Linked DNA regions of Homo sapiens: region 2 is linked to region 1. Evidence: fine-mapped expression QTL. A gene starts in region 1. The other region holds a variant in brackets. All regions are shown on one strand. Distances are from middle to middle. Region 1 holds the start of ACTR1A (actin related protein 1A). Region 2 overlaps ARL3 (ARF like GTPase 3).

What was found. PIP is the estimated chance that this variant, and not a neighbour inherited with it, causes the effect.
Region 2: its variant is fine-mapped to the expression of ACTR1A in whole blood (INTERVAL, PIP above 0.99).

What each region holds. Positions count from the first base shown.
Region 1 is chr10:102,500,161-102,505,534 of GRCh38, reverse strand. ACTR1A (actin related protein 1A) reads left to right here and starts at 2,823. Exons shown (of 11, transcript NM_005736.4): 1 at 2,823-2,935. The coding sequence starts at 2,888. It overlaps SUFU (SUFU negative regulator of hedgehog signaling), which reads right to left and starts at 1,563. Exons shown (of 12, transcript NM_016169.4): 1 at 1,201-1,563. The coding sequence starts at 1,382. RefSeq lists enhancers at 1-376, 2,845-2,944, 4,339-4,839 and silencers at 669-963, 1,278-1,747, 2,425-2,494.
Region 2 is chr10:102,694,032-102,699,405 of GRCh38, reverse strand. It overlaps ARL3 (ARF like GTPase 3), which reads left to right. Exons shown (of 6, transcript NM_004311.4): 3 at 1-33. Among named protein-coding and RNA genes, the nearest start is that of ARL3, 18 kb to the left of the region's middle. The variant G/T (reference allele first, on the strand shown) is at 3,010.

The DNA.
Region 1 (5,374 bases):
CTAAAAGGAGAGGTAACCAGCAAAGATGTCCACTTGCCCCTTCAGGTCTACCCTTTGGCTACACCCCCAAGCAGCTGCAGAACAGTCTTTCAAGACTCATTGAAGATCATCTTACACAATGCCTGCATGAATGTGGTCCTGGACAGTTTCAACCAATATCTCAGTTTTTGGTCCAGCAAGACTTTGAGGACAGGTTCTTTTCCAGAGTCCCCAGAACATCTGTTCTGCCCAAATGCTGAAGGAAGAAACAGGCTGCAAACAGGAATGGGAAATTAGAAAAGACCATTCCTACCCTAAAGCTACTTGAGGGTTACTCTCAGCTCCCCGGAGAAACTGCAGGCCATGGCCGAGAAGCTCCTCTTAATGTCCCACTGCACAATTCCTCCCTGCTGGGGTCCCAGAGTCTCCACCATTTATTTCCAACTGGAGGTGGGAAGCTGTCGGCCCCTTCAATCCTAAGCCAAACCATGGTTCTCTCTACCTAATGCCCTAAAGCGAAGCAACTGCAGAGCTAGGAGGAAGCTCTGCACGGAGAAAGAGAACAGTGCAGAGTAAGCAAAAAGTTTATCAGGAAGAGCTGCTCCGTCAAACTTCAAAAGCAAAAGCTTTGCCCTGATACGACGTCTGAGCTAATCGGGAAGGTATCAAAAGGAGACCTCCTCCTCTCTCCACAAGCACCAGGCCCTCATCTTTGGCCCTCCTACCCACCACAGGAGAGCCCTGGGCCCCCCGAACCCCCCATTCTATGCAGTCTCGTGCCCTCTGAGCTTCTTCGGCTTCGCTCCTCCAAAGCCCTCTCAAATGCTCCCCAGGCCCCGCCTCGCCTCTCCCATCCCACTTCGGCCGCCCCCGCTTGGCTTCCCCTCGCCCACTAATGACCCCCTACAGGCGCCCCCTCTTTTCACCACGTTTACAGTTCCCTCGCTCCTGCCGTTCCCCCCTCTGCTCCTACACACACCCCCAGTCCTCACTCTATTCTCCTAATCCCGGTTAACCCCTCAGTACCCACGGGCTCCGTTAACCCCTTTGTCCCCATTCCCAACTTGAGCCTTAACTCCTTCCCTCGCAGCAAGAAGCCCTCCTTCTGAGTGCTTTAACCATTCTCTACCCCTCCTCCCACCTCCCACAAATTACTTCGCCCTCGGCGCTTTAACCCTTTCCAGCCCGCGCCTGTCCGTCTCCCCGCGGCCCAGAGCATACCAGTACTTGACGATAGCGGTAACCTGGAGCGGGTTCGGCTGGTCAGGGTAAAGGCGGCGGCACTCTCCGTAGATGGCGTGCAGTCCCGGGGGAAAGAGCGAAGCGAAGGCCGGGGGGGCAGTCGGGCCAGGGGCCGGGGGCGCGGTGGGGCCGGGGGCGCCGCTAGGCCGCAGCTCCGCCATCGGGGTGCGTAGGGCAGGCACTGGGGGAACTGGAGAGGGCAAACGACGGGGAGAGCACTGACGGGCCAGCGGGCGGACTCGGTGGGTGAGACTCCCCGAGGCGATGGGGGCTGCAGCGAGGTCTAGCTCCGCGCCTGCGCACGGCGCACTGTCCGCCCAGGCTGTCGCCGCCGCCGAGTCTGCCAGAGGGTGCCTCGGGGCGGCGGGGCGCTAAGGGGGGCGGGGCGCCGGCGCACCCTATCCAAGCACCCATTGGCTAATGTCTGTGCCAGTCACAGGCAGGGAAGGTGTGACTTGACAATAGGCCCCGCCTCCCCTCCCTGTGTTGGGAGTGTCCCAAGGCTCTTGGTCTCCCCCTAGTGTTAGGAGGAACCCAAGTTTAGAGATGCTGAGCACCCTCTGAGGTGCTAAGGTCCCACGAAAGCAGCGAGAAGTGCGCCAACAAAGGATTTGTTACTGTTTTGCTGACGCGCTGCTAACTAGGATTTAAACATAAATCTGACAATGGATTGATTCATTCATCCATGGGGCGTTAGTATTAATAGATGATAATAAATCTAATGTTTTCTAGGGCTATTGACAAAAAGGTCCCTGAAATTTCAAGGGGGCTGGGGGAGAACATAATCCAGAGAAAAAAATGCACTGGGCTCATTTGAAAGCAGTGACACATAACCTCTCTTCACCTCCATTTTCTCAACCATCAGTGTCAATTCTAGCTCGTTATGAAAATTAAAGAGATACTCGAGCAGTTTCTGAAACCCTTAGATGATGTTTTAATGACCAAAAGATTACCTATACCAGTAGTTCCAATTGCCAATCTTCGGATCAATGTTAGCCTGTTATGCAGAAAAAAAGAAAATGCAAAAGGCAACGACAATGTACAGGTTTTTAAACTTAAAGCTAATTTTATGCAATTTAAATTGTTTTCCTTTGTTGTAGGAATATGTCCTCTCGCGTACGTGTGTTAACATTTCCTTTTTGTTAGAGTGTGAGGTGCTAGGAGATGTTTATTAAAGTCTTACAGACCCAAATAAAAACATGAGAACCTTATATTGTCTAAGGGAACGTCGGGGGGAGTGGCAGGGCTGATCTGCAAAATCCAAACATCCATGAATTACGACCAATCCAAACCGAACTACAGACAAGTACTCGAGAAGACTACATACCTCAGCATGCACTGCGAACTCCTTCAAAGGGACTACAGATCCAGGCATGCAACATGACCATCAACCTGTGTCTCTGGCTGTTTAATCTAGGGAGACCACAAATCCCAGGGTACTGCGCATTGGAAATGCGACTCCCAATCTTAAACTAGGCGGGCAACAAAGCAAGCTAGATCGCTAACCCAGGCGCAAAGCTTGCTGGGGATTGTAGTTCTTCAGAGGCGAGGTCGGGCCGCTCCCTCGCCGCCCTGAACCGGCGGCTAGACTGCGCATGCGTGTCAGTGGCGCTAGCGGCGGACCCGGCTGGGCAGTTCCTTCCCCAGAAGGAGAGATTCCTCTGCCATGGAGTCCTACGATGTGATCGCCAACCAGCCTGTCGTGATCGACAACGTGAGTTGCGTCTTTCCTATCTATAAGGGGACTTGGGCTCTCCTCCTCGAAAGGATCGCTTCCCGGGGTTCAGCCTGAGCCGCCGGCTCTTTGTCACTGGCCCGGCCTGTCAGGCGCGTTCAGCCACCGCCGCCTCCTTCCTCCCCTTATCACATAGTCCGCAGGCAAGGCGGCCAGCCAGCAAAAGTGGGATGGAGAACTCTGGAGTGGATAAAGGAAAGAGTTATAGTCCAAGCCAGTCCTTGGGCCCTTGGCTCTAGGGGCCTTAACCGCTGTGTGAGATTCCCGTCGCCCGCCCTCTCCCCCATTTCCGATCGCTCTATTGGTTGCTCTGGCTGTCCATCTTAGCCAATGATACCGCCTCTTAGCCTTGCCGGATGAGGCTAGGCCTCTGCGGTGATTGGCTCACGCCCCTGCCATTCTTCCTTGCCGCCATATTGTTTTCCCTCTTGAAGGGGCGGGGCAGTGCTCCAGGGCTGTGGGGATTGGCTTCCGGGACTCTGGGTGGTGGGGCCTAGAGGCGAGTGCCCGCCCGCGGGTGGAGAACGGCTAAGTTTTCCTTCGGTCTCAGCCGGCGCTGCGGCTTGGTGGTGTGGATCTGGGTGGGGCCCGAGAATCTGGTGCCAGAAACCGCTGTAGGATGTCAGCTATTACTGTGATTATAAATTACAAAGTTGGTAAAGGTCGAGAAGAAAGGAGAGTGACAAAGGAAGCAGAGAGGTTGTCCTCCTCTTTGGAACGCCTAGTTCTTACGGGGAAAAAATTACCAAACTTAATATTTGCCTGGCGCTCTAGCGCTTCCAGGGCGTTTTCACATACATTCGAGTTGGATCCTCACAAAAACTGGACGCATAGTTTAAAAGGAACTTTGATCTTCGTGTTACCGATGAGAAAACTGAAGCGCGAAGACGTAACGTGAGCCCAAGGTCACATAGCAGAGGTGCCCTAAATCCAGTACTTTATCCGTCATCCCTTTTGCCAGCACCACCATGCAGAAGCATCAATATTGACCAATAGAAAGAATCTAAATACTGCTCTTATTTTGGGGGGAAAGGAGAAAATTGTAAAACGACTGCATTTCTGCCTTCGATTCAAAGCTTTGGTCCCACAGAGATTGATCCCTGTCTGTGTCCCTTGTAGGTCCCTCCATTGAGGCAAAACTACCAGTTCCCTCTGTTGTAAGCTGACTCTGTCAGATTCCCTTTGTTGATTCAGCTCTTGGGACCTTAGGCATATTACAATGTTCTCGTTTAAGCTTCAGCTCTGTTAGGTAGATAGGAATTACTATCCCCAGTGTATGCAGGGATGTTAAATAACAGATTTCAAACCATCCAGTTTAGGAATTGAGGAGCCAGTCATCAGACTAAGATCCAGTTCCAAGTTGCTTGCTTTTTCCAATATATTTTTGTTGTTGTTTTCATTAAATTTTCCTTCTCTCCATGGGTATTTTGTTTTTATTATTCCCCCTTAGAAAGGGGCAGGATTGAGCTCAATGAGACAGCTCATTTTTTTTTTCTTTTTTTTTTTTGGAGACAGGGTCTCGCTCTGTTGCTGAGTCTGAAATGCAGTGGCGCGATCACAGCTCACTGCAGCCTCAACCTCCTGGGCTCAAGTGATCCTCCCGCTTAAGCCTCCCGAGTAGCTGGGGCTGCAGGCACGCGCCACCACCCCTGGCTAATTTTTGTATTTTTTGTAGGAAGGGTTTCACCATGTTGTCCAGGCTGGTCTCAAACTCCTGGGCTGTTGCGATTCTCCTACCTTGGCCTCCCAAAGTGCTGGGATTATAGGCCTGAGCCACCGTGCCTGGCAGAGACGCCTCTTTTTTTGGTGTGGGGGGGTGGAGGGAACAGGATCTCGCTTTGTCACCCAGGCTGGAGTGCAATTGTGCGATCTCAGCTCACTGCAGCCTCCGCCTCCAGGTTCAAGAGATTCTCCAGCCTAGACTCCCAAGTAGCTGGGATTACAGATGTGCACCACCACGCCTGGCTAATTTTTGTTTGTTTGTTTGTTTGTTTGTTTGTTTGTTTGTTTTTGAGACGGAGTCTCACTGTCGCCCAGGCTGGAGTGCAGTGGCGCGATCTCGGCTCACTGCAAGCTCCGCCTCCCGGGTTCACGCCATTCTCCTGCCTCAGCCTCCCGAGTAGCTGGGACTACAGGCGCCCGTCACCTCGCCCGGCTAATTTTTTGTATTTTTAGTAGAGATGGGGTTTCACCGTGTTAGCCAGGATGGTCTCGATCTCCTGACCTCGTGATCCGCCCACCTCGGCCTCCCAAAGTGCTGGTATTACAGGCGTCAGCCACCGCGCCCGGCCTAATTTTTGTATTTTTAGTAGAGATGGGGTTTCACCATATTGGCCAGACTTGTCCTGAACTCCTGACCTCAAATGATCCACCCGCCTTGGCCTCCCAAAGTGCTGGGATTACAAGCATGAGCCACCA
Region 2 (5,374 bases), 190 kb before region 1:
TGGAAGAATTATTTTGAAAATACCGATATTCTTGTAAGTACTCCTTCTGACGCACTAATTCATAGTATTTTCTGCCATGTGTTAGAAACATGGACACTGTAACATTCTTTCTTGTCAGTAATTCCACCACCATAACATTAATCACTGTGAATTTAGCAGGGATAGCAGAAGGCTACAGATTATAAAGGAAAAACATCTTTGTATAACTTGTATAAGATGTTTTGCTGTCGCTCAGTAACAATGTTGTACCCACACCCATCTTGGCAAAATAAAGTGTTATTAATTGCCATAGTGATTTGAATAGCAGAAGGGAAGTCAGAAGATCATGCCACTGACTGTCACCCCTAGGAAGACAACGAATCAAGTGTATTGCAAAGAGAGCAAGCAAAATAGTGAAAGTACTGGAAACCATGATGTGTAAGGAGTGGTTGAAAGACCTGAGAATGTTATTCCTGGAAAAGAGAACACTGGGAACTGTCTAGGCTGCTTCAAGAATTATCTTAAGTCAGAGGGATTGAATAGTTCTAGAGGGCTGAGCCAAGAGCAAGATGGGGAATGTTAGGTGGTAGAATGTAATTCAGATTAAGGAAGAAGTTTCCTATAATTACAATCGTCCAGTAGTAGGAGAAGCTGCCTCGTGCATTGGGAATACCCTGACTCAGGGAGCGTTCATTCAAGTGGAGGCCGAGATTTTAGCTCCCAGCTCGCTGTCACTTCCTTTAGGACCATCACAGTTTCAGAATTCTTGGAGATTTCACTGTCCACTTACATGATTTCCACAAAACCTCAGCCTCTCAGTTCCTTCACCAGCCCTCCTTCAATGGTCTTGTCATCTACTCTACCTCAGCCACATACTTGCATAATCATACCCTAAAACTAGGGGGGCTCATGAACTTAGATGGGAGAAAAATTGCATGTCGCTTTTACTAACCTCTAACCAAAAGTTTGCGTTTACATCAATTATGATGAAAGGCAATAAACTGCAATAATAGCAGCCATATCTATGTCTTTATTACGAATAGAAATCATCTAGACCAGGTGTGGTGGCTCATGCCTGTAATCTCAGCAGTTTGGGGTGGCTGAGGTGGGAGGATCGCTTGAGCCCAGGAGGCGGAGGTTGCAGTGAGCCCAGATTGAGATCAGGCCACCACACTCCAGCCTGGAAGACAGAGTGATACTCTGTCTCAAGACAAGAAAAAAAAAAAGAAATCATCTTGCATCTCAAACAGCTTCACCTTCTGCTGTTGTTTCCTAAGTGTCTCTCTCCTCTGGATCATTCCCATCAACATAAACATATCCTGTAGCTTCTCTTGCTTAATGAAGAAAAAATAAGCCCCAGAAAACTCCTCCTGACCATACATCCCCCTCCAATACTGTCCCATTCCTCAGCCTCCCTTTATAGCAAAACTCCTTGAAAGAGTTTGTTATGCTCTCTGTCTTTGCTTTATCTCCTCCTAGTTACTCTTGAGCCTTCTTTTCAGGGTCACTGATAATTCCACATTGCTAAAAGTAGGGTTCAGTTTTCAGTACTCATCTCACTTGACCTATCAGGCCATTTAACATTGGTCATGCTCTCTTTGAAACATTGTCTTTTCTTGGCTTCCAAGACACCATTCTATCTTGGTTTTCCTCCTCACTGGCTACTCCTCCTAAATCTCCATTGCTATTTTTTTTTAATCTCCCAACCTCCAAATGTTAGAGAGCCCCGGAGTCCTTGTGTTTTTCTTCTCTGAGTCACTGCTTAGGTGACCTCGTCTAATTTGAAGGATTTAATGACCACTTAGATGCTTATGAATCTCAAACTATCATCTCTAGCCTGGAATTCTCCCCTGAACTTGAGTTTCATATACAGTCATGTGCCACATAATGACACTTGGGTCAGTGACTGACCTCATAAATGATAGTGGTCCCTTAAGATTATAATAGAGCTGCCGGGCGCAGCGGCTCACGCCTGTAATCCCAGCACTTTGGGAGGCCAAGGCAGGTGGATCACGAGGTCAGGAATTCAAGACTAGCCTGGCCAAGATGGTGAAACTGCATCTCTACTAAAAATATGAAAATTAGCTGGGCATGGTGGTGGATGCCTGTAATCCCAGCTACTCAGGAGGCTGAGGAAGAGAATTGCTTGAACCCAGGAGGTGGAGATTGCGGTGAGCCAAGATTGCGCCACTGCACTCCAGCCTGGGCAACACAGCGAGACTCTCTTTCTCAAAAAAAAAAAAAAATTATAATAAAGCTGAAAAATTTATATTACCTAGTGACATAGCTGTCATAACACATTACCTTTTATATGTTTAGATCCATAAATACTTACCATTGTTTTACAGTTGCCTGCAGTATTCGATACAGTAACTTCGTGTACAGGTTTGTAGCCTGGGGCAATAGGCTATGCCATACAGCCTAGGTGTGCAGTAGACCATCTAGGTGTGTGTAAGTACACTGTATGATGTTGGCACCATGTCAGAATTGCCTAATAATGCATTTCTCAGAACATGCCCCTGTCATTAAGCAACACATGACTATATAAGCCAGCTGCCTATTTGACATCTCCACTTCAGCGGCTGGTAAGTCCCTCAGCCTCAACATGTCTAAAACCAAATTCCTGTTTTCATCCTGTTCTACTCAACCCTACTCTTCCCACAGTCTTCTCAGTAAATGGGAGTCCCATTCCTCCGGAAACAATGCAATCATCCTTGGCTCCCTCTCCTCACTCCCCTCATCTGATCTATCAGCAGATTCTTTGTACCTATTGCCATCAGACGTATTTTTATTTATTAGCTTTCTCTTGCACTGTAAGGTAAGCTCCGTGAGGACAGGAATTTTTGCATTTTAAAAAACTGTTGGCCGGGTGCGGTGGCTCACGCCTGTAATCCCAGCACTTTGGGAGGCTGAGGCGGGTGGATCACAAGGTCAGGAGTTCAAGACCAGCCTGGCCAAGATGGTGAAACCCCATCTCTACTAAAAATACAAAAAATTAGCCAGGCGTGGTGGTGGGCGCCTGTAATCCCA[G/T]CTATTTGGGAGGCTGAGGCAGAGAATTGCTTGAATCAGGGAGGTGCAGGTTGCAGTGAGCCAAGATTGCGCCACTGCTCTCCAGCTTTGGCGACAGACCAAGACTCCGTCTCAAAAAAAAAAAAAAAATGTTGGCCAGGCTCTGTGGCTAACGCTTGTAATCCCAGCACTTTGGGAGGCCGAGGTGGGTGGATCACGAGGTCAGGAGATCGAGACCATCCTGGCTAACACGGTGAAACCCCGTCTCTACTAAAAAATACAAAAAAATAGCCGGGCATGGTGGCGGGCGCCTGTAGTCCTAGCTGCTCGGGAGGCTGAGGCAGGAGAATGGCATGAACCTGGGAGGCGGAGCTTGCAGTGAGCCAAGATTGCACCACTGCACTCCAGCCTGGGTGACAGAGTGAGACTCTGTCTGAATAAAAAATAAAATAAGGCCGGGCATGGTGGTCACTCCAGCCTGGGCAACAAGAGTGAGACTCTCTCTAAGATAAGATGAGATAAGATAAGGTGAGGTAAGATAAAATTCTTTTAATTCAGAAAAAAACAAAAAAATAAAAATAATTAAAAATATTTTAAATCAGGCCTGGTGCGATGGCTCATTCCTGTAATCCCAGCACTTTGGGAGGCCGAGGCAAGTGGATCACTTAAGGTCAGGAGTTCGAGACCAGCTTGACCAACATGGAGAAACCCCGTCTCTACTAAAAATACAAAATTAGCTGGGCGTGGCGGCACATGCCCGTAAGCTACTCAGGTGGAAAATCGCTTAAACCCGGAAGGTGGAGGTTGCGGTGAGCCAAGATCATGGCATTGCATTCCAGCCAGGGCAACAAGAGTCTCAAAACAAAAAACAAGTCTCAAAAACAAAAAAAAAATTTTAAATCAACAAGGAAACACTTAGAACTAATAAGTGATCATACCAAGGCTGCAGGATATAAGGTTAATATGTACAAGTCGGTTGCTTTCCTTTATATCAGCAGTGAACAATTGAAATTTGAAATTAATAGCAAAATACCATTTAGCACCCCCAAAATGAAACACTTAGGCATAAATCTAACAAAATACATTCAGGACCTACTTGAAGAAACCTGCAAAACTCATAAAGAAGATCTAGGTAAATAAAGAGACAGTCCGTGCTCATGGATAGGAAAACTCAGTATTATTAAGATGTCAGTTATACCCAACTTGATTTATAGATTTAATAGAATCCCAATCAAAATCACAGCAAGTTACTTTGGGGATATTGACAAACTGATTCTAATGTTTATATGGAAAAGCAAAAGATTTAGATGGCTAACATAGTACTGAAAAGGAACAAGTTAGAGGACTGACACTACCTGACATCAAGATTCTCTGTAAAGCAAGTAAACAAGACAGCATAGGCCGGGCGCAGTGGCTCACGCCCGCACTCCCAACACTTTGGGAGGCTGAGGCAGGCAGATCACCTGAGGTCAGGAGTTCAAGAGCAGCCTGGCCAATGGGGTGAAACCCCATCTGTATTAAAAATACAAAAATTAGCCGGGTGTAGTGGCAGGCACCTGTAATCCCAGCTGCTCGGGAGGCTAAGACAGGAGAATCGCTTGAACCCAGGAGGCAGAGGTTGCAGTGAGCCGAGATTGCACCATTGCACTCCAGCCTGGGCAACAAGTGTGAAACTCCGTCTCAAAAAAAAAAGAAGACAGCATACATTAGAGAAAGAGTAGACAAATTGATCAACAGAACAGAATAGAGAGCCCCAAAATAGGCTTACATGAATATGGCCCACTCTCTCTGACAAAAGAACATGACAGTTCAAGGGAGGAAGGATAATCTTTTCAGCAAGTGGCGCTGGAATAATGGGACATCGACATGCAAAAAAAAAAGAATCTAGACCCATCCTTACCCCTTAACTTAAAATGTTAAAATAGATTCTTTTTTCCTTCGACCTAGAGCCCTTGACAAAATGGATCTTAAACCTAAATGTAAAACCCAAACACTATAAAACTCCTAGAAGACAACATAGGAGAACATCTAGGTGACCTTGAGTTTGGTGATGAGGTTTTAGATACACAAAAAGCATAATCCATGAAAGAAATAAATTGGACTTAAATGAATTTAAAACTTCTGGAAGCAGCCGGGCGCGGTGGCTCATGCCTGTAATCCCAGCACTTTGGGAGGCCAAGGCGGGAGGATCACGAGGTCAGGAGATCGAGACCATCCTGGCTAACACGGTGAAACCCCATCTCTACAAAAAATACAAAAAAAATTAGCCGGGCGCGGTGGCAGGCGCCTGTAGTCCCAGCTACTCAGGAGGCTGAGGCAGGAGAATGGCGTGAACGTGGGAGGCAGAGCTTGCAGTGAGCCGAGATCACACCACTGCACTCCAGCC